2 linked regions of the Homo sapiens genome follow. Each later gene encodes a partner of the first gene's protein in a complex. Each region holds a gene or a part of one and is shown on either strand. Other genes may lie near its edges. A codon is read from its position in the direction of its gene.

What was found.
Region 2: the proteins of RILP (region 1) and RAB7A are in contact, whole or in part, in a crystal structure (PDB 1YHN), measured with the Homo sapiens proteins. Residues at the interface, in NP_113618.2 of Homo sapiens: Phe248 (codon at 2,798), Glu249 (codon at 2,795), Leu252 (codon at 2,786), Gln253 (codon at 2,783), Arg255 (codon at 2,777), Asn256 (codon at 2,774), Lys259 (codon at 2,765), Ala260 (codon at 2,762), Phe263 (codon at 2,753), Leu264 (codon at 2,750), Glu267 (codon at 2,741), Glu268 (codon at 2,738), Tyr271 (codon at 2,729), Arg274 (codon at 2,720), Glu275 (codon at 2,325); in NP_004628.4 of Homo sapiens: Ser3, Lys6, Leu8, Ile41, Gly42, Ala43, Asp44, Phe45, Leu46, Thr47, Thr58, Trp62, Ser72, Leu73, Val75, Leu182, Tyr183, Asn184, Glu185.

The regions. Positions count from the first base shown.
Region 1 is NC_000017.11:1,645,632-1,655,485, forward strand, and holds RILP (rab-interacting lysosomal protein), read right to left. Parts: upstream 4,236-9,854; 5' UTR 4,174-4,235; coding exon 3,946-4,173; intron 3,875-3,945; coding exon 3,781-3,874; intron 3,676-3,780; coding exon 3,569-3,675; intron 3,414-3,568; coding exon 3,168-3,413; intron 2,865-3,167; coding exon 2,719-2,864; intron 2,327-2,718; coding exon 2,204-2,326; intron 1,359-2,203; coding exon 1,275-1,358; intron 989-1,274; coding exon 811-988; 3' UTR 519-810; downstream 1-518. Other genes in the region: SCARF1 (scavenger receptor class F member 1 isoform 1 precursor), read right to left, coding at 1-66; PRPF8 (pre-mRNA-processing-splicing factor 8), read right to left, coding at 5,171-5,325, 5,477-5,679, 5,783-5,922, 6,017-6,157, 7,911-8,052, 8,146-8,385, 9,719-9,854. UniProt on the Homo sapiens protein: Rab effector playing a role in late endocytic transport to degradative compartments. Involved in the regulation of lysosomal morphology and distribution.
Region 2 is NC_000003.12:128,721,476-128,730,775, forward strand, and holds the start of RAB7A (ras-related protein Rab-7a), read left to right. Parts: upstream 1-4,707; 5' UTR 4,708-4,884; intron 4,885-9,300.

The sequences.
Region 1 (9,854 bases):
CAGCTCGGACCCCTGAGTCCCCCGAGTCCAGAGCAGCAGCAGCGGGAGCAGCAGCCCCAGCCCCATGGCAGGCAGCTCGGTGGGAGCGCTCGGGTTCGTCTGGCCCCCACAGCTCCCAACCCCCTCCCTGCTTCCTCTCAGGGCTTTTCCTGAGGAAACCAGGCCGGAGGGGCGGGCTGCCACGAGGCACCTCCCTGAGAGGGAGGGGGTGGCTGGAAAGACTGACACTCAAAAAAAGAAAGGGAAAGAAAGGCAATGGCAGGGCTGACTGGCCTGGGCCTGGAAGGGCCAGAAGAATGAAGTTGCAGGTCCCTGGGTGCCGGGGCCAGGGAAGGGGGTGGACTGAGGCTGGGAGCCACGGCTTTCCATCAGGCCACACTCCCAAAGCAAGGCCTGAGCTGCAAGAAGCCACCCCACCCAGTGACTGAGCAAGGAGACCAGCGAGGACCCCTCAGCCTGCCTCTGCTCCTGGCAGGGTTGGGAGGTGGCACAGACATGGACAGACAGGCGAGGAACAGTTTCTGTGTATTACGGGCAGTTCTTTATTACATGAGCTCAGGCCGTCTGCACAAAGCCCTGGGAGCTAGGCAGTCAGCTCTCATTTCATGGATGGGGAAACTGAGACTCAGAGAGGCACTCTTATATCTGGCCCCAGAGGCTCGGTACAGAGACGTAGAGAGGGAGGCGGGCTGAGACCCCGTCCTGCCCTGATGCAGGCCAGGATTGGGGCAGACCCCTGGCGAGGGCTGTGAAGGCGGGAGCCCTGTCCTCATTTGAGGCCACACATCCTTCCACAGCCAGACCCCTAAGTCAGGCCTCTGGGGCGGCTGAGGCCCCCAGACAAAGGTGTTCGTGGAGGGCAGAACAGGGCGGATCAGGAGCTGGAGACTGTGGTTGGGCCTCCTCTTCTCCCCCTAGCTTGCTGGGTGCAGGGCTGCTGGTCTCATCCTCAGAGGATTCAGCTTTACCCCGATACCATAGGCCAAAGCTGGAGAGAGACAGCCAGAGGCACTTTGAGCCAGGAAGCCAGAGAGGTCAAGGATATGGGTGAGGGCAGGGGATGGTGAGAAAAGGGGAGAGGGGGAAGAAAGGGCAGCCTGAGGGAGTGTGAAGGTGATGGGGGCCAGGGCCAGAGAAGCAGGAGGGGACGGTGTGCTTAGAGCCAAGCACAGCAGGGTGACGGGCAGAGAAGCGGGAAAGGGGATCCTGAGAAGGACCAGCCAGGGCCCTTCCTCCCTCCCCACACTCTTGCCTTTCCCCTTTCCCCAACATACAAACTCTGTATTTTGGACTCCGGGGGTGGGGGATGGTCTCCCTTGTCATCGGAGAGCAGGATCCATGGGCCAGCCTCATCCTCACTGAGACAGAGGAGAGAGGAGAAGTGAGGGCCATTGATCAAGGCCCTGAGGGACAACAGGAATCCAGCAGGGGGGATGGAGGGACTGCAGGGCCCCCGGGGCTGGAGAGAAGGCAACCCTGGGGAGATGCAGGATGTCGAGCCTTTAATTTTTAATTTTTTTTTTTTTGAGACAGGGTCTCACTCTGTCGCCCAGGCTGGAGTGCAGTGGTGCGATCTCAGCTCACTGCAACCTCCGCCTCCCAAGTTCAAGCGATTCTCCTGCCGCAGCCTCCTGAGTAGCTGGGATTATAGGCACATGCCACCATGCCCGGCTAATTTTTGTATTTTTAGTAGAGACGGAGTTTCACCATGTTGGCCACGCTGGTCTCGAACTCCTGACCTCAGGTGATCTACCCACCTTAGCCTCTCAAAGTGCTGGGATTACAGGCGTGAGCCACCGCGCCCTGCCAAGGGTTTATTTTATAGCTTGACACACAGCAGGCCCTGACACAGCCGCGGCTACAGTTTCACCCCCGTAAGAATAAACAGACCCAGCCAAGACAGGAACTTGAAGAATGAATGTGGAGAGGCAGTGTTGTCAGGCAGAATGGATGGCAGGCAAGGCAAGGGGAGTGGTGAGATCCAGGGAGAAGGGCGCAGGCTGGACAGCGGCCATGGGACACAGCCAGAGCAGGTCAGCAGGCCCTAGAAGCGGCCAGGCTAGGGAGGCTCAAGGGGTGACCGGGTTGGGGTGACAGCCTCAGTCTGAGACAATGGGCTCAGAGGGTGACCAGGCTGGGTCATCAGGCTCAGCAGAATGAGGGAGGGAGGCCTGGCTCCGTGGGAATGCAGGCAGGGACCTACCTGCTCTCTGCTTCCTCTGGTGTCCCTAACATCTTGGCCTTGATCTTCTTCCGCTGCTTCCGGACAGCCACCTTCATGGCCTCGAGCAGAAGGCCGGGGACCCGGTGGTCTGTGAGCAGCTCCCTAAAGAAAAGGGGCAGGGAGGGAGAAAGCCCTGGTGATGCCAGCCATGGGGATGCCAGCAGTGGAGATGCCAGCCGCAGTCCTCACTCCTGGTACCTGTGCACGCAGCTCTTCCCTGAACACGGGAAGCGCTCTGCCTTGCTGACACCCTCAGACCTTAAATTAGGTGGCCCCGTGGCCCCCTCCTAGGAGAGATTCCCTGGCTGCTGCAGCTGCAACCCTTTGTACTGTCCCTCTCCCCTGTCTGGATGACATTGCAGGAGGGCAAGGGCTGTACAATTCATGTCCTCCCAGTTCCCAGCGCAGGCCTGGCACATGTCACTGTGGACATGTCAATGACTGGAGAATGAGGTGGGGTGATCGGAGGCCCCCCGGCTTCCCAGCGTCCTCACCGCTGGAAGTAGGCCAGTTCCTCCTTGAGCAGGAACACTTTGGCTTTGAGTTCATTCCGCTCCTGAAGGATCTGCTCAAACTCCTCCCGACTGAAGCGGCACTGCCCTGCCTCCGAGGGGCGCCCGAGCTGCTGCGCGGCCTCCGCCTTTGGAAGGACAGGCACAGTCAGAGGGTCGCCTCGGCTGGCGTTCCCCCGCCCCAGGGCCATCATGGGAATGCTAGAGGAAGTGACGGGCCGGGAGACTTGGGGGACAAGGGTGCCCTAACAGATAACAGAGCAGTGCTCCAGCTGAGAGCGGGGGCCGAGGCCGGCCGGGGGCGCAGATCTGTCTGCCACCTCCCCGCTTCCTGGCCGACCTGCTGTGCAGCATGCAAACCTTGCTTGAGTGCCCACCGAGGGCTGGACGCTGCGTCCTGGGCTGGGTCCTTGCCCTCATACGGCACTCACCGGGTCCTCAGGGTTCCCTGGGGCGCCTGCGCCGGCGGTCGCCCATTCGGGCTCCTGTCCGTGCTGGTGCCCGGGCCGCCCGGCCTGCCCCCGCGCTCGCTCTTTAGCCTGCGGAGTCGCGGCTTCGCCAGGCTGCTGGCGCTCCCTCTCGCGGTCCTGCGCGGCGCGCAGCTGGGTCTGCATGGCCGCCAGCTTGTGCCGCAGCTCAGCGTTCACCAGCAGGAGGCGCTGCAGCTGCTCCTGCAACTGGGAGCGGAGCAAAGGGTGGGGTGGGCGGGGCACCGAGGGCCCCCCGGAGCCCCGCCCAGCGCCTGCCTCGCTCCGCCCCCGCCCCCGGAGCCCCGCCCAGCGCCTGCCACGCTCCGCCCCCGCCCCGCCCCAGAGCCCCGCCCCGCCCTCACCGCCTCGGTCTCCTGGCCGCGCTGCCGCAGGTCGCGGTTGTGCGCCCGGAGTTCGTCCCGCTGTCGGTCCGTGACCTCCTTGAGCTGCCGCAGCAGCGCGCGCTCCTCTGAGGAAGGGGCGTTCTTAGCGGCGGCGGCGCGCGGCCCGCGGGAGGGAGGGGAGGACCCGAGCAGGTCGTCACCCGCCCTGCCCTGGCCGGGGCTGCGCTTACCCTGTGGCCCCGCGCGCAGCTCCCTGCGGAGGCGCTCGTTCTCCTCCCGCAGCCGCCGCAGCTCCTGCTCCGCCGGCTGCGCCGACACCTGCAGCTGGGGAGACCCGGGTCTCAGGCTTCGGCCCTGCCGGCCCCGTGGGTGGCGAAGGGAGGGCCATGACTCACCGAGTCCGGGGCGGGCCCCACGGCAGCCTGTTCCAAGAGCTCCAGCGCCCGCACCACTAGCGGCACCAGCCCGGCCGCCGCCTCCGGCCCGAAACGGCGCGCCAGATCCTGCAGCTCAGTGCCCAGGGCCCCGGCTAGATGGTACACAAGCTCCGCGGCCGATGCCGACCCCGCGGCCTCCCGAGACCCCCAGCCAGGCACCCCGGGCGCCGCCCTCCTGGGCTCCATGTCTCCCAGAGGCTTAGGGCTGCGACCCCCCCACCCCACCCTCCACTGGGACGGGGAAAAGCGAAACAGTTCCGCCCCAGGAAGCCGTTTAGGGCGGTGTGGGCGGGGTAGAAGCGATAAGGGTAGGGAGGAACGAGGAAGGGAGAAGGCGTGGGGTAGGGAGATAGTGCCCTAGGTCGCCTGGGCTCTGTCCTTTCCACCCCCAAGGTCACAGGAAACAAGACAGCCAACTTCCAGCCAGGCGTCCAAGAGCTGAGGTTCAGGGCTGCAAGTGGTCACTTGAGTGGAGCCCTCCCCACAGGCCCAATCCAGGCTCCGCCCGTTTGGAGTCATGGGGCCAACTTGGCAGTGGCCCGCTCCAGGCGAGAGGTGACAGGTAGGCAGCCGGTCTCTGGCCTCCGCCCGGCTGTACACAAACTGCCTGCCTGTGTGCTTGTTTTCCTGACCAGGACTGACACAGAAAGCTTAAAGGGCTGGGCTGGACACCGCAGCCGCTCAGCACAAGCCACAGAGTTCCTAGACCCGGGAAAGGGCAACTGCTCCCAAAACTGTGGAAAGGAGGCGAGAGCTTCCAAGTAGTTTTGTGGAAAAAGCAGCAAATGTGGTCAAGGCAGCGGAGTGTGAAAGCCCAGCCCTGCCTCAGGTCTCCACTGAGTCCAGGGGCTATCTACCCCAAAGCCCTGAATAGGAAGGGGGCCTCATACTCCCCCCTTCACAGCCGAGCCCAGCATCTTGCTGTGAACCGCTCCAGTCCAGCCTCCTGTTAGACCTAAATCCAGAATTTGAGTTTGGGGGGGAAAAAAAAAACAAACCAGCCCCTGAACTCCTATTTATACAAAATTTATTATTATATTTTATTCAGGATGACAAGCCATCAGGAGGTCAACAACACAAGCACAGACAGAGGGAAAGAGGCCAAACTGCTGAATGTCAGCGGCCTGTCTGGAGGGGCTGAGGCTTCGGCCTCGGGAGGCTGAAGCAGGAGGCAGGGAAACGGTCAGGCATACAGGTCCTCCCGATCCGCAGAGTAAACCTCCCCCTCCTGCAGGAGAGCAAAGTTGAGGAAGTGAGAGGGCCTGTGCACCTCGTGGTAGAACTCTTTGGGGTTCGCCAGCTGTAGCTCATATTTCATGTTGGGGTCATGCCGAACACCTTCGGGGAGAAGGAAACAGCCAATGTTAACAGGGCTCCTGCCTCATGCAGCCTGCGCCACCTCCAAGCCAGCCAGGCCCCAAGTGCAAAGGGCGATGGCCTCACCTTATCCCTACTGCTATCCCCACATCCCCAGGCTCCTCCCACTTACCCATGAAGTTGTAGTTCCACGAGGACTGGGCAGGGACCATGAAGAAGCCAAGGAAACGGTCCGACAGCAGCATCTGCACCCTCTCATAGTGTGAAGGCAGGTAGCCCTTGGGGTTGTTGCCCTTGTCTGTGTTCTGGCGGCCCCATTCGTAGCCACTGGGGGTCAGCTTGTAGGCCGTCAGTGTACAGGAGCCTGGCGTGAAGCTGGGGGAGGAACGAGGACAGAGTAACAGCTCAGGCCACTGTTCTGGGCCCTGGCCTGCAATCCCTGCCCCACCATACTTCCTCCCAAGGAGCCCAGGCCCACCTGCATGTGATGATAATGGTCTTCTCGCCATCCCAAGATGGGTTGTCAGCCATGATCTTGGCATGGGTGGTGACATCCTGGGGTGATAACTGCGGGGACTCATTGGGCTGAGTGTGGATCCAACCTAAGGGTTCCATCTCCTATAGGTAAAGAGGAGTACAGAGCTGAATCCCATCCACAGACAGGAATCGCACCAGCTTTTCCACACTCCCAGGCTCCATCACTCCCCATTACCTTGAGGTACTCATGCTGGGGCAGCTGGCCAGGCAGGTGCACGGTCTGGTGAGTGCCCCACTGCGGCACCATCACAATGCAGCGGATCTCCTTCACCTGGGGGTTATCTGGTGGGCTCACCCCATATAGGTATCCTGCAATCTGGAGACAAAGGGGTCAGGAACCAAAACTCTTCTTAGTACCAGGTCAGAGTTGGAGCTGCCAGCCCTCTGTTTCCTTCCTTCCCCCAAGAACGAGGACAGAGTTTCTTAAAACGTGATCAGAACCCCCTGTATCAGAATCAGCTGGGGTGCTTGTTCAAAATGTTAGACATGGACCTCATCGCGGACTTACCACATCAGAATCTCCTGAGTGGGGTCCAGGAATCTGCACTGCTCACAAGCTCCCCAGCTGATTATTAAGCATAGTATTCACAAGCAAATGAGCACACATGCAGCTCAGTGTATTTTCACAAGCTGAAAACATCTGGAAAACCAGCACTTGGTGCTATTTTAAGTTTTACATTATCACCAAGAAAGAAAGAGGATCTGTTTACTATAAACTCACCCACACAGGATATTAACAATCTTTTCAAATTTGCCAACCTGACAGCCACTAAATAGTGGGTTTGAGATGGAGTCTCACTCTGTCAGCAAGGCTGGAGTGCAGTGGTGTGATCTCAGCTCACTGCGACCTCCGCCTCCTGGGTTCAAGCAATTCTCCTGCCTCAGCTTCCTGAGTAGCTGGGACTACAGGCACATGCCACCATGCCCCGCTAATTTTCATATATTTAAGAGAGACGGGGTTTCGCCACGTTGGCCAAGCTGGTCTTGAACTCCTGACCTCAAGTGATTCACCCACCTTGGCCCAAAATGATGTTTTATAAACTATAATATCCCTGATACACTAGTAAAGTTATGCATCTTTTCTCTTTTTTGAAGCAGGGTATCACTCTGTCACCCAGGCTAGCAGGCAGTGACATGATCTCAGCTCACTACACTCACCACCCTCCAGGATCAGGTGATCCTCCCACCTCAGCCTCCTGAGTAGCTGAGATTACAGGTGTATGCCACCATGCCTGGCTAGTTTTTTTTTTTTTTTTTTGTAGAGACTCCATTTCGTCATGTTGCCCAGGCTGGTCTCGAACTCCTGGGCTCAAAAGATCTGCCCACCTCGGCCTCCCACAGTGCTGGGATTACAGTCATGAGCCACTGTGCCCAGCCTGGAGTGCAGTGGGGTCATCAAAGCTCACTGCTTGCGTTCAAGCAACCTCATCCTCCTGAGTAGCTGGGACTACAGCCACGTTTTTTTTGGTTTTGTTTTTTTAGACGGGGTCTTGCTCTGTTGCCCAGGCTGGAGTGCAGTGATGCAATCTTGGCTCACTGCAAGCTCCACCTCACCTCCCGGGTTCAAGCAATTCTCCTGTCTCAACCTCCCTAGTAGCTGCAACTACGGGCGCATGCCACCATGCCTGGCTAATTTTTTGTATTTTTAGTAGAGACAGGGTTTCACCATATTGGTCAGGCTGGTCTCAAACCCCTGACCTCAGGTGATCCACCCACCTAGGCCTCCCAAAGTGCTGGGATTATAGGCATTAGCCACTGTGCCCAGCCGAGTGTTGGGATTACAGGCATGAGCCAGCACGCACACCTGGTCAGGAATTTGTTTCTGACCATATCTGTTCTCTTCCAAATACTATCAGGCCAATACTACAATTACTACCTTCTCTCAGCTGCCACAGCTTTTGCTATCTCATGGGGCCAAAACCCACCTCGTTGTTTTGGCTATCCTTGTATAATTACTCATCCATGAATCTTGAAACCAGCATCTCAAGTTCCAGACAATCTCAGGTCTGAGTTTTAGGCACAAAATGAGTTGGGCACACACTGTGGCCTAGCTGAGTCCACTTACTCACTTGGGCCCGAAGGTCAGATATGCAGATGAACTTCTTAAGCACATTCTTGGGAAGGATGTAGGTGTAGCCAGTCTCCTTGATGTCGTCAGATGAAACATAGATGTGATTGGTCCTTAGGTGCAGGTTGGCAGCAGAGATGGCCCTAAAAACAGGCAGGGAGTGTCAGCATCGCTCAGCCCAGCACCTTAGGTAGTGCAGCCGGCCTTTCCATCCCCACCCTCTTGCCCGACAGTACCTGACCCTCCACTCAGTCTTGGATGAGAAAGTCTGGGTCTCATAGTTGCTGGTGGTGGAGGTGATGATCTCATCGCCATGCTTGTTGACAGTGCGAGTCTGTGTTGCCGTCAGCTGCGATTGTTCCTTGGTCTGCTTCTCGATCTCAGCGATCTGCTGCCGCTGCTGTGACGGTGCCGAGATCTCCATACCCAGGATGATGTCTCGAATTTCTGATTGTGTCAGTGATGCCACGTTCACACTGTGGGGATGGTGTGGGTTATATTACAAGGATCCCTTCCCCTTGGTCACTTCTGCCTCAATGGAAAGGGTGTAACTTGGTAGGACAGGACAGCCTATACTCACGCCCCAGACAATCCACAAGAGCTGCTTCTACAGGAAGTGTGAAACGGAGGTGCACTAACACTTCCAAGATTCGTCAGATCCAAGCGGGACAGCACACTGCGTGTGCACCTTCCCACTGTTTAGCATCCATAAACCCTACGCTTCCTTGACCAAAACAATGCTCTGGCATGGAACTGTTCTCAGAAATGGAAACCCCAGAAACCCTAGAATACTGGTTCTTAATCAGAGGTGGTATTGTCCGTCACCCTATGGATAATTTTGGTTGCCACGATGACAGGGAGGGAGACGAGGGGAGGAAGGTGTGTGTGTGTGTTGGCAGCAGTCTCGGATACTTAGGGTCTCGGATGTTCAAAATTCTTCCCATGTATGGACAGTAAAGAAATGCCCTGTTTGAAATGGCAACAGTGAGAAACAATGGCCAAGAGTCAGACTGAAGCCCTAAAACAGGGATGCTTCCCATACTATTCGAAGACACTGCTGTATCTCTCTTCCTCGAGACTCTGTAAGATAATTTCTTTCCTTGTTTTCAAGACAAGAGTCTCGCTCTGTTACCCAGGCTGGAGTACAGTGGCATCATCATGGCTCACTGCAGCCTCAAACCCCCGGGCTCAAGCAAGCCTCCTGCCTCAGCCTCCAAGAAGCTGGGACTACAAGCGTGTACCACCACACCTGTTTTAAATTTTTTTTTTTTGGTAGAGATGGCGTCAGTCTCTTGTTGATCAGGCTGGTTTCAACTCCTGGCTCATGCAATCCTCCCACCTTGGCCTCCCAAAGTGCTGGTATTACTAGCATGAGCACTCAAGCCTGGCTAAGACAAGATAATTTCTTGAGAAACGTCTTTTTTTTTTTTTTTTTTGGAGACAGTCTCACTCTTGTCGCCCAGGCTGGAGTGCAGTGGCATGATCTCGGCTCACTGCAACCTCTGCCCCCAGGTTCAAGCAATTCTCCTGCCTCAGCCTCCCGAGTAGCTGGGATTACAGGTAGGCGCCATCGCACCCGGCTAACTTTTGTATTTTTAGTAGAGACGGAGTTTCACCACGTTGGCCAGGATGGTTTCAAACTCCTGACCTCAAATGATCTACCCACCTTGGCCTCCCAAAGTGCTGGGATTACAGGCATGAGCCACCGCGCCTGGCCTTCTTGAGAAACTTCTAAGCCTAAGTGCTTCCAAAAAACCCCAGAAAACCGTATATAGACCTCCTGTCTGTGTCCCCACCAGCACTGCTCACTTGTTTTTCTTGCCGTAGTCAGCCAAGATCAGATCCTTGAGCTGCACCTCGACCTTGATCCATTCTTCGTCAGTCAGAGTGGGCCAGATGTGGTGTGGTTCTGTAATAGTAGTCTTGTCTGGCTTCAGGATCACTT
Region 2 (9,300 bases), on another chromosome or scaffold:
GGAGATCCTTCCATACCAATATATAGAGAATTATCTTATTGCTTTTTTATAGTTGCACAGTATTTCATTGTCAAGATGTACCATACCTTTTTTACCAGTTCCCTATTGATAGAAATTTGAATGAAAATTGTGCAGGGACGTGTGTGTGTGTGTACGTTTGTACATTGTGTACCACACTAAGTAGTAAGGCTCTTGATATCAATGGCCTTGTTTTCCTTGTGTCCTTAGAACCTAACAAAAAGCCTAGCATATAGGAGATTCTCAGTAAATCGTTTGTTGAAAGAAGGATGTACTTGTCCACTTTCTCCATGGGCAATCCTGTTAACACCCGTTACTTTCATTTCCATCTACTCTTAAATTTCTATTTTCAGCTGAGGCTACCCTGAAGGACCCAGAAACCCAACTCCCATCTCTGCCTCAGCCCAAAATGTCTAACTGCCTCCTCCCCATCTCCACTTGGATGTTTCACGGAAGTCCTCTGTCTCAGCATTTCCAGAACTGAACTTCTCACTCCTAATCTCCTCCAACATACCTGCTGTGCTTTGGATATGATGTGTTCGTGCCCCCAAAATCTTATATTGAAATGTGATCCCAGGCCAGGTGCAATGGCTCACACCTGTAATCCCAGCACTTTAGGAGGCTGAGGAGAGCAGATTACTTGAACTCAGGAGTTTGAGCCCAGCCTGTCCAACACGGCGAACCCCGTCTCTACTAAAAATTCAAAAATTAGCTGGGCATGGTGGCAGGTGCCTGTAATCCCAGTCACTCGGGAGGCTGAGGCACAATAATCACTTGAACCTCATAGATGGAGGTTGCAGTGAGCCAAGATTGCTCCACTGCACTCCAGCCTGGGCAACAAAGCGAGACTCTGCCCCCTCCAAAAAAAAAAAAAGAAATGTGATCCAGGCAGGCTGAGAGTGGTGGCTCTCACGCCTGTAATCCCAGCACTTTGGGAGGCTGAGGGGGGCAGATCACTTGAGGCCAGAAGTTCAATATGGGCCTGGCCAACTTGGTGAAACTCCATCTCTACTAAAAATACAAAAATTATTTGGGCATGGTGGTGCACGCCTGTACTTCCAGCTGCTCGGGTGGCTGAGGCACGAGAATTGCTTGAACCCAGTGGGTGGAGGCTGCAATGAGCTGATAGCACCTCTGCACTCCAGCCTAGGCGACAGAGCAAAACTCTGTCTCAAAAAAAAAAAAAAAAAAAAGAAATGTGATTCCTCAGTGTGGAGATTTGGGAGGTGGGGCCTAGTTGGGGGTATTTGAGTTGTGGGGGGGTTCCCTCATGAATAGTTTGGTGCCATTCTAGGTAGTGAGTGAGTGAGTGAGTTCTGGCTCTGGTGAGGCTGGATGAGTTCTCACAGGAATTGATTAGTTCCCAAGAGAGTAGGTTGTGCTAAAGCCAAGATGTCCCTTGGATTTGGGCTGGGATTTCAGGCACGTGCCACAGCGCCCGGCTAATTTTTGTATTTTTAGTAGAGACGGGGTTTCACCATGTTGGTCAGGCTGGTAAAGACCAAAACACTTCTAATATTAAATATTAAAGTAAATGTGAACTATATATATATTTAAGACAGATTAATGAAAATGAGCAAGATAATTATTTATCCAATTATTCCATCTCAGGGTCACAGGTGGCCAGTCTATCCTGGCAGCTCAGGACAGGAACCAACCCTGCACAGGATGCCAGCCCATTGTGTACACGTGTGCGCACGTGCACACACACACACACACACACACACAGAGACTGGGACAATTCAGACAAGCCAATTCACCTAAAGGGCACATCTTTGGGATGTGGGAGGAAACCAGAGGAACCAAGGAAAACTCAGACATGGGGAAAGAGTGTAAACTACACAGACAGGGGCCCCAGCCAGGAATCAATTTTTTCTCATCAATGTTATAATTGAAATGATGTTACTGGAGGCCCTGCTCTACTTAACTCCCCCAAGAACCCTAAAAGTCTCAATCCCAATACATCACTGGCTCATAATGGATCTTGCCATGTAAATTGGGTCCAGATGTGGATGAGGTTCCTCAGATATAATTCCTTAAGAACGGCTCTGAGCACTGTTCCTCTGAAGGCCTGTGAGCTAGAGATGTTATCTGCTGTCCACGGACCCAGCATACAGAGTTGGCAAGAAGAAGATAAGCATAGTAGACACTTTTGTTCAAAAGGGGAAAAAACAGGAGCGACAGCTGCCACTGGGTCATAGTAATTCTGAAATCAGCGAGGCACGTGATGCCAGTTCCTTGATTCGAGTCCCCTCCTGCTCCTTGGGAATGATTATCTGCAGCTCCTGGCTCTATCCTCTTGGCTCATGGGTTTCTTCTAAGTTGTCCTTTCTTTCCCATAGGAAATAGTCCATGTTTGCATCTGAATAGCCTTCTCAGAAGGCTTCTTAGAAGGCTGGGGCCCACATGTCCCATTTTATTTTTGTGCTCTGCCTTTTCTGGTATAATTGTCCCTTGCTATTTGTGGTGGATTGGTTCTAGGACTCAGATGCTCAAATCCTGCAGTCAGCCCTGCCAAACCTGGGGATGAGGACTACTGCATTCCCAGTTGCTACTTTACCTTCAAACCTAGCATTTTGATTGGCTGCCTAACGGGGTGGAATTATCATAACTCTTGGCCTTTGAAACTATTTTCAGTTTTCATTCCCCTGAATACTCTGCAAATTGTACACATTGAGCACCTACTGTACCCCAACACTGTTTCAAGAATCAGGGATATCGCAGTGAATGAGACAGACAAAAATAGCTGCCTTGTGGAGCTGCCATTCTAGTGGGGAAGACAGACAATATGCAAATAAGTGAGTAGTATAAGAGGAAAAACTTTGGGAGGCTGAGTCGGGAGGATTACTTGACACCATTACTTGACACCAGGAGTTCAAGACTGCCTGGGTAACATAGTGAAAACTTCTCTTTACAAAAAAAAAAAAAAAATTAGCCAGCCATAGTGGTGCACGCCTGTGGTCTCAGCTACTCAGGAGGCTGAGACAGGAGGATCACTTGAGCCCAGAAGTTCAAGGCTGCAGTAAGCCCTGATTATGCCACTGCACTCCAGCATGGGCAACAGAGCAAGAACTTTTCTCAAAAAAAAAAAAAAGAAAAAGAAAATAAAAAAGAAAAAACAGAGGAGAAAAGCAGTAGGGAGATGTCAATTTTTGTGTTTGTATTGTGGTGACAGGGAGAGGGACTTCAGTTTTAAATAGGGAAGGCTATTTCACTGAAAAGGTTACTTTAAAGTCAAGACCAGAGGAAAGTGAGGGAGTGGCCAAGCAGATACCTGGAGGAAGAGCTTTCCAGGTAGAGAGAAGTACAACTGCAGAGGTCTGATGTAGATGTGTGCCTTCTCTTTTCTTTTTTGTTTATCTTTTGGAAGAGACAGTCTTGTTATGTTGCCCAAGCTGGTCTTGAACTCCTGGGCACATGCAAAGTGAAAGCAGAGAAAGAGTGGACTTACCCCAGAGGCGGATGGTTCTGCAGTGTGCAAGGCCATTTCAGAATACACATAGAGAAAACAGGAGAATAGGTGGTGAGGGTTTTGGGGAAAGAGCCAATTTTGGTTGAAAAAGTAGGGGAAACCCCAGACATTGTACCATCTCAGGGTTGAGACTGCTTGCCTAGCTTTTGAGATTTTTTTTTTCCCCAGACCCCTCAACTCCTGAGATCTTATCGGGAAGCTGCTGATCACCAGTTTTAGGTGTTTTTATCTATTGGGAGACTGCCTTTCTCTGGTCTGGCTGCAACCAATTATTATTTTAGAGAGACAGCTTAACCTGACAACCACGTCATGGTTGCCTCACATTGCTGGTCGGGGAGTGGCCCCTCTCCTGCCCTGCTCAGGTCTGACTACTTACTGTAACAATTGCAAGGTTTTTGGATGGAACAATTGAAAGAATGGAGCTTGCATGAACCAAAATAAGAAAAGACTATGAGAGGGCATTGTTGAAGATGGAGGCAAAAATTCTGAGTGGATCCTGATGTGTTCGGATGGGGCTGGTGCTTGGGAGGCTGCTCTGTGCTTACAAGAAGAGTTCTACCCGGTCCATCTTTATCACATCTTCTCTAATACTAAGTTCAGAGAGGCTTTAGCTCATTTTCCATTTTCTTGGGCTGTCTCCTCTGCCAGACAAAGTGCCTATTTCTCCTGTCTCTATCACCGAGCCACACAATTGCTGTAGTCATTTGCAGTCTACTAGAACGATAACACATATTGGCATCAGACAGATCTTGGTTCAAAACCTCGCTCCACCAGTTTCTGTGTTGAGCTAGACCAAGTGACATGATATACTGAGTCTCAGTTCCTTATTTGTAAAATGGTGATAATAATTTTTGGTTAAGTAATTAAAGTAAGGATAAATGATGCCTTTCGAAGAAGGACACAACTGGAATGGCCAGTTTACCCCTTGTCCCCTCTTCGGTGGCATTATTTATTCTGGAGTAAGGAGGGATGGCTGAGGGAATCTGTCTGTGGGTCCAACATGGCGCCGTCCTGCTCCTTGTATGAGCCTCAAAGATGGGGACAACCATTTGGGGGCAGACATGTTTGTAGCACGAGATCCAGGCTCAGTCCCGAGGCAGCCGGAACGTGACGCAAGGTTGAGGCGGGGCTCCTCCCCCGCACCCTGGCGTCGAGCGTCTCGTGACAGGTACTTCCGCTCGGGGCGGCGGCGGTGGCGGAAGTGGGAGCGGGCCTGGAGTCTTGGCCATAAAGCCTGAGGCGGCGGCAGCGGCGGAGTTGGCGGCTTGGAGAGCTCGGGAGAGTTCCCTGGAACCAGAACTTGGACCTTCTCGCTTCTGTCCTCCGTTTAGTCTCCTCCTCGGCGGGAGCCCTCGCGACGCGCCCGGCCCGGAGCCCCCAGCGCAGCGGCCGCGGTAAGCAGCGGGCCCAGCCCGGCCGGCGGCCTGGCCCCATCCCCCCCCTCAGCCCCTCGGTCGCCAGGGCCTCGCGTCCTCCCTGTCCTCCTGGGCAGGCTCCAGTCCCAGCCCTGGCCACGCGGGCACACCCGGCATCGCTCAGGCCCCCGGAGCAGGCCAAGACCCCACCCGGCTTGGAGAGGTCGGAGGTCGTCGGGCGTGACCTCTGGCCGGGTTGCCCGCCCCGGCCACCCGTCTCGGACGCTCTGTTTACTGTTGGCCTGGATCTCAGAGACCCGAGAGGGTTCCTTGACTTGGGCGGCCCTGCGCCGCGGCAGGACGCGCTGGCCAGTGGAGTTCCTTAGCGCGGCGAGCAGGAGGGTGTCAGAGCCCACGCCGCCCGCCGCCGTGCCCACCCGGCGGGCATGGGTCACAGGCGCTGGGGGCCGAGCCGCGTTCCCATCCGGTTCTTCAGTTGAACAGCCTGACCCTGTTAGTGGGAGTTCCCTGACGGCAACTGAGTCAAGGCAGTGAGTCAGGTCACGTGCGCTGGGCTCGCCTCGACACTTGTGTACATTGAGGCGCCTCTGGCGCTGGGAGACAGGGAGCTTTTTGTCCTAGGCATGTTACGGTAAATCCTGAGAGAAGTTTTTCAACTTAATCGAGGAAAGATGGTAGTTGGATGTAGAGTTGTGTTTCCATTCCGACCGTGTTTGGGGCCTCTTTCTGCATTCATTTTAGGCTTGATACCTAATGGGGTCATAAGGGGAATATTGAGAATATTGACAGCAAATATTTGAGCGTTTATTGTATGCTAGGCAGCGTGGCAAGACCTTTTAACAGATCATTATGTTTAGTTCTTTGAACAACCCTCTGAAGTACCACTGTTGTGCCCACTTAACACAGTGGGAAGTTGAACAGAGAGGCTAAGCCATTTGGCCAAGGTCACACAGCTAATAAGTTACGAAGCAGAGATGCAAGCCCAGGCAGTCAGACTCCAGAGCACTGTATTAAATTTCTAGGTTGTACTGCTTTCACGTACCCCTGAAGCTTGCTGGTTTATCTTTTGCTACCTGGTATCTGTACCTCAGTGCCTCCCACCACCTCCTTTCTTTCTATTGATGTCATTTGAAAGTCTTTCTGGTAGCATCAGTTCTCCCTTAAAGCCATAAGAAATGCCGTTTGCGACTTATCACACATATTGTGGTGTAGTGTCACCGAATTAGGAGCTCTTGAATACCGGCAGGGTACTTAACTGAGGTTTGAAAAATTTTGCAGGTAGGCCTGGCAAACCTGCCTAGTGAACCTTTCTTACAACCTTAGTTGATGGCTGTCCAGCCGGCTGGTTCTTCCCTATTCAAAATACTGCATCTTTGGTTTCCTAAAGAACGGACTCTTGTCTCTTTCTTGTGACTTAAGCAGCTGATGAAGCACATGATTTCTCATCCATGGATGAATAAAGTCTCCTCTTAGTGTGTTTCTCTCTTCAAACTTGGGAAGGTTTGTTCAGATTTGAGTTTAAGGACTGGAAGGTGAGTTAGGAGTACTTCTTCTGAAGAAGGGACCGGCTAAGTTAAAGCTTAGCGTTCACAATCCTGTTGTATTCATATTTGTCTTTTTTTTTTTTAACTTTGCTACCTAGCCTAAAATATTTAAGTGAGTAATAAGTACTGTGGCTTTATATAATGTTTGAGTTTAGAGTAATGATAGGCACCTTTTTATTCATTCATTAAGTATTTTGAGTATCCATTGAGTATCAGCAATGTATCAGGCATTGTGGGACATTGACTCAGGGAGATAGGCGTGGTTCCTGTCCTCAAGGAATTTTTAAAAGGTGAATGATCTTGGCCAGAAATTCTGTTGTGGAATAATTTGGCGGTAGAACTTGAGGCTTTTTGGAAAGAGTTATTTCTCATCTCTGCTGGTGAATCAGTAGTAACCCAAAGGATGGTGTTCTTCTGGCTAACTTTAAGGCTTTGTTAATTTTAACAACAGCATTTGTATGGTTTGCTCTTCAGAGAGTGTAGAAGATAATATTACAGTTTCTAATTAATCACATCTTTTAAAGAGTAACCTTCAACACTCAACTTGTTTCTCCTTTTGCTCTAGTGGCATTTATTTTATTTTATTTATATTTTGAGACGGAGTTTCCCTCTTGTTGCCCAGGCTAGAGTGCAATAGCGCGATGTCGGCTCACTGCAACCTCTGCCTCCCGGGTTCAAGCCATTCTCCTGCCTCAGCCTCCCGAGTGGCTGGAATTACAGGCATGCGCCACCATGCCCAGCTAATCTTGTATTTTTAGTAGAGACAGGTTTTCTCCATGTTGGTCAGGCTGGTCTCGAACTGCCTACCTCAGGTGATCCGCCTGTCTCGGCCTCCGAAAAGTGCTGGGATTACAGGCATGAGCCACTGCGCCCGGCCGACTCTGGTAGCATTTTTTTGTTCACTCAAGAGGTAGTCCATGTCACTACTGTAATTACCTTGCACTGCCATGTCTTTGAGCAAAGGTACATTTGGCATGCTGGATTTTTTTCTTCAGCTGGCAAGAAAGTTTAATGTAGCACTGATAGTGTACTGGCCATAGTTTCAGTACCATTCTACATAGAAAAGCTGTGTTACCCTATCTCCCACAACTTTCTAGATTCCCTTCTTTAAGGGAAGATTTGGATTTTACATTTGTGGTAGAACTGCATAAGTAAACAGAGGGTGGAATGTAGAAGATAGTCTAAAAATAGTTTTATTAGTATATCCTTCTAGGTAGTTAGCAACCACTTGGGGCAATTTTTTTTAAAATTTTTTTTTAGTGCCAACTGTGTCTAAGCTCACCAACCCTGTAATCAGAGAACAACTCTTTATAGTAAAGTGTGGCTTTGAATCAGTTTTCTGACCCCACTGCCAAGTGAAGCCAAAAAATTTTGGTTATTTGATTAGCTTTTAATATGTCTTCAGCTGGGCACGGTGGCTCACGCCTGTAATCCCAGCACTTTGGGAGGCCGAGGCAGGTGGATCATGAGGTCAGGAGATCGAGACCATCCTGGCTAACACAGTGAAACCCCATCTCTACTAAAAATACAAAAAATTAGCCGGGCGTGGTGGCGGGCGCCTGTAGTCCCAGCTACTCGTGAGGCTGAGGCAGGAGAATGGCGTGAACCCAGGAGGCAGGGCTTGCAGTGAGCAGAGATCATGCCGCTGCACTCCAGCCTGGGCGACAGAGCGAGACTTCTTCTCAAAAAAAAAAAAAAAAAAAGTCTTCAAAGGGATCTTCACTAATAACGTTTTTGCTCTTACTTTGGCATTAGACTTTGTAAACAAAGATGTAGCAAACACAGACCACGCAAATATGACAGTTGTCTTATGCACATTCCTCTCTGGCATTTGACACAAATATTTTAGTTTTTCCTATGATAAAGTATTTATCTCCCCATTCATTTAATTCAACAAATACAGCTGAGATAGATTTGACCAGATGTTGGACTTGGAGCTGTAGGCAGGCTTTTCCTGGGGAGGTAAGGATTAGAAGTCCTCCTGAATAAGGCTAAACAGAGGTTCCCCTTGGCATTAAATGTCTTCTTCTGAAGGCGACTGAAACTCGAGAAATGAACTCCCCGCCTCCCCCCTTATTTTTTGGCTATTGGCTTGCTGTTGATGATTCTTACCTCTCATGTAAGGAAGGCTACCATTGTATTCTCAGGCATCCATTCCTTTGTGTTACCACATGCTTATCTGTTAATATTATCTAATAGTTCTCTATGCTTCTCTGTCTGCAGTTTGCTGCAGAAACATTTTTGCAATATGCTGATCTTTTCAGTTATTTGCTCTTAAATCTTCTATTCTGTTTTTCCCCACACTCCATATGGCATTAAAGACAGAAAAATAGTTTGTGTTTTAAAACTTTTTTTTTTTTTTTAGACGGAATCTTGCTTTGTAGCCCAGGCTGGAGTGCAGTGGTGCCATCTCAGCTCACTGCAAGCTCCACCTTCCAGATTCATGCCATTCTCCTGCCTCAGCCTCCCGAGTAGCTGGGACTACAGGCACCCACCACCACGCCCGGCTAATTTTTGTATTTTTAGTAGAGACGGGGTTTCACCGTGTTAGCCAGATTGGTCTTGATCTCCTGACCTCGTGATCCACCCGCCTCGGCCTCCCAAAGTGCTGGAATTACAGGCGTGAGCCACCATGCCCAGCCTAAAACTTATTTTTAAAACATTTCTTAATGGTGGTGGTCACTGCGATTTGTGAATCAGAGGTAAAAGTGATGTGGCGAGTGAAATCAAAACAAGTTTTTTAGCAGTGTCTGTTACCAGTTTCAATTTTAGTATCCCAGGCTGTGATTACAAAAACATATTTAAGAATAGCTACTTGCAAAATATCTCCTTGTGGGAGGAAGAAAGCTTGGGAGTTGGTTCCAATGCTGACCTACAGCATTGGCCTTGT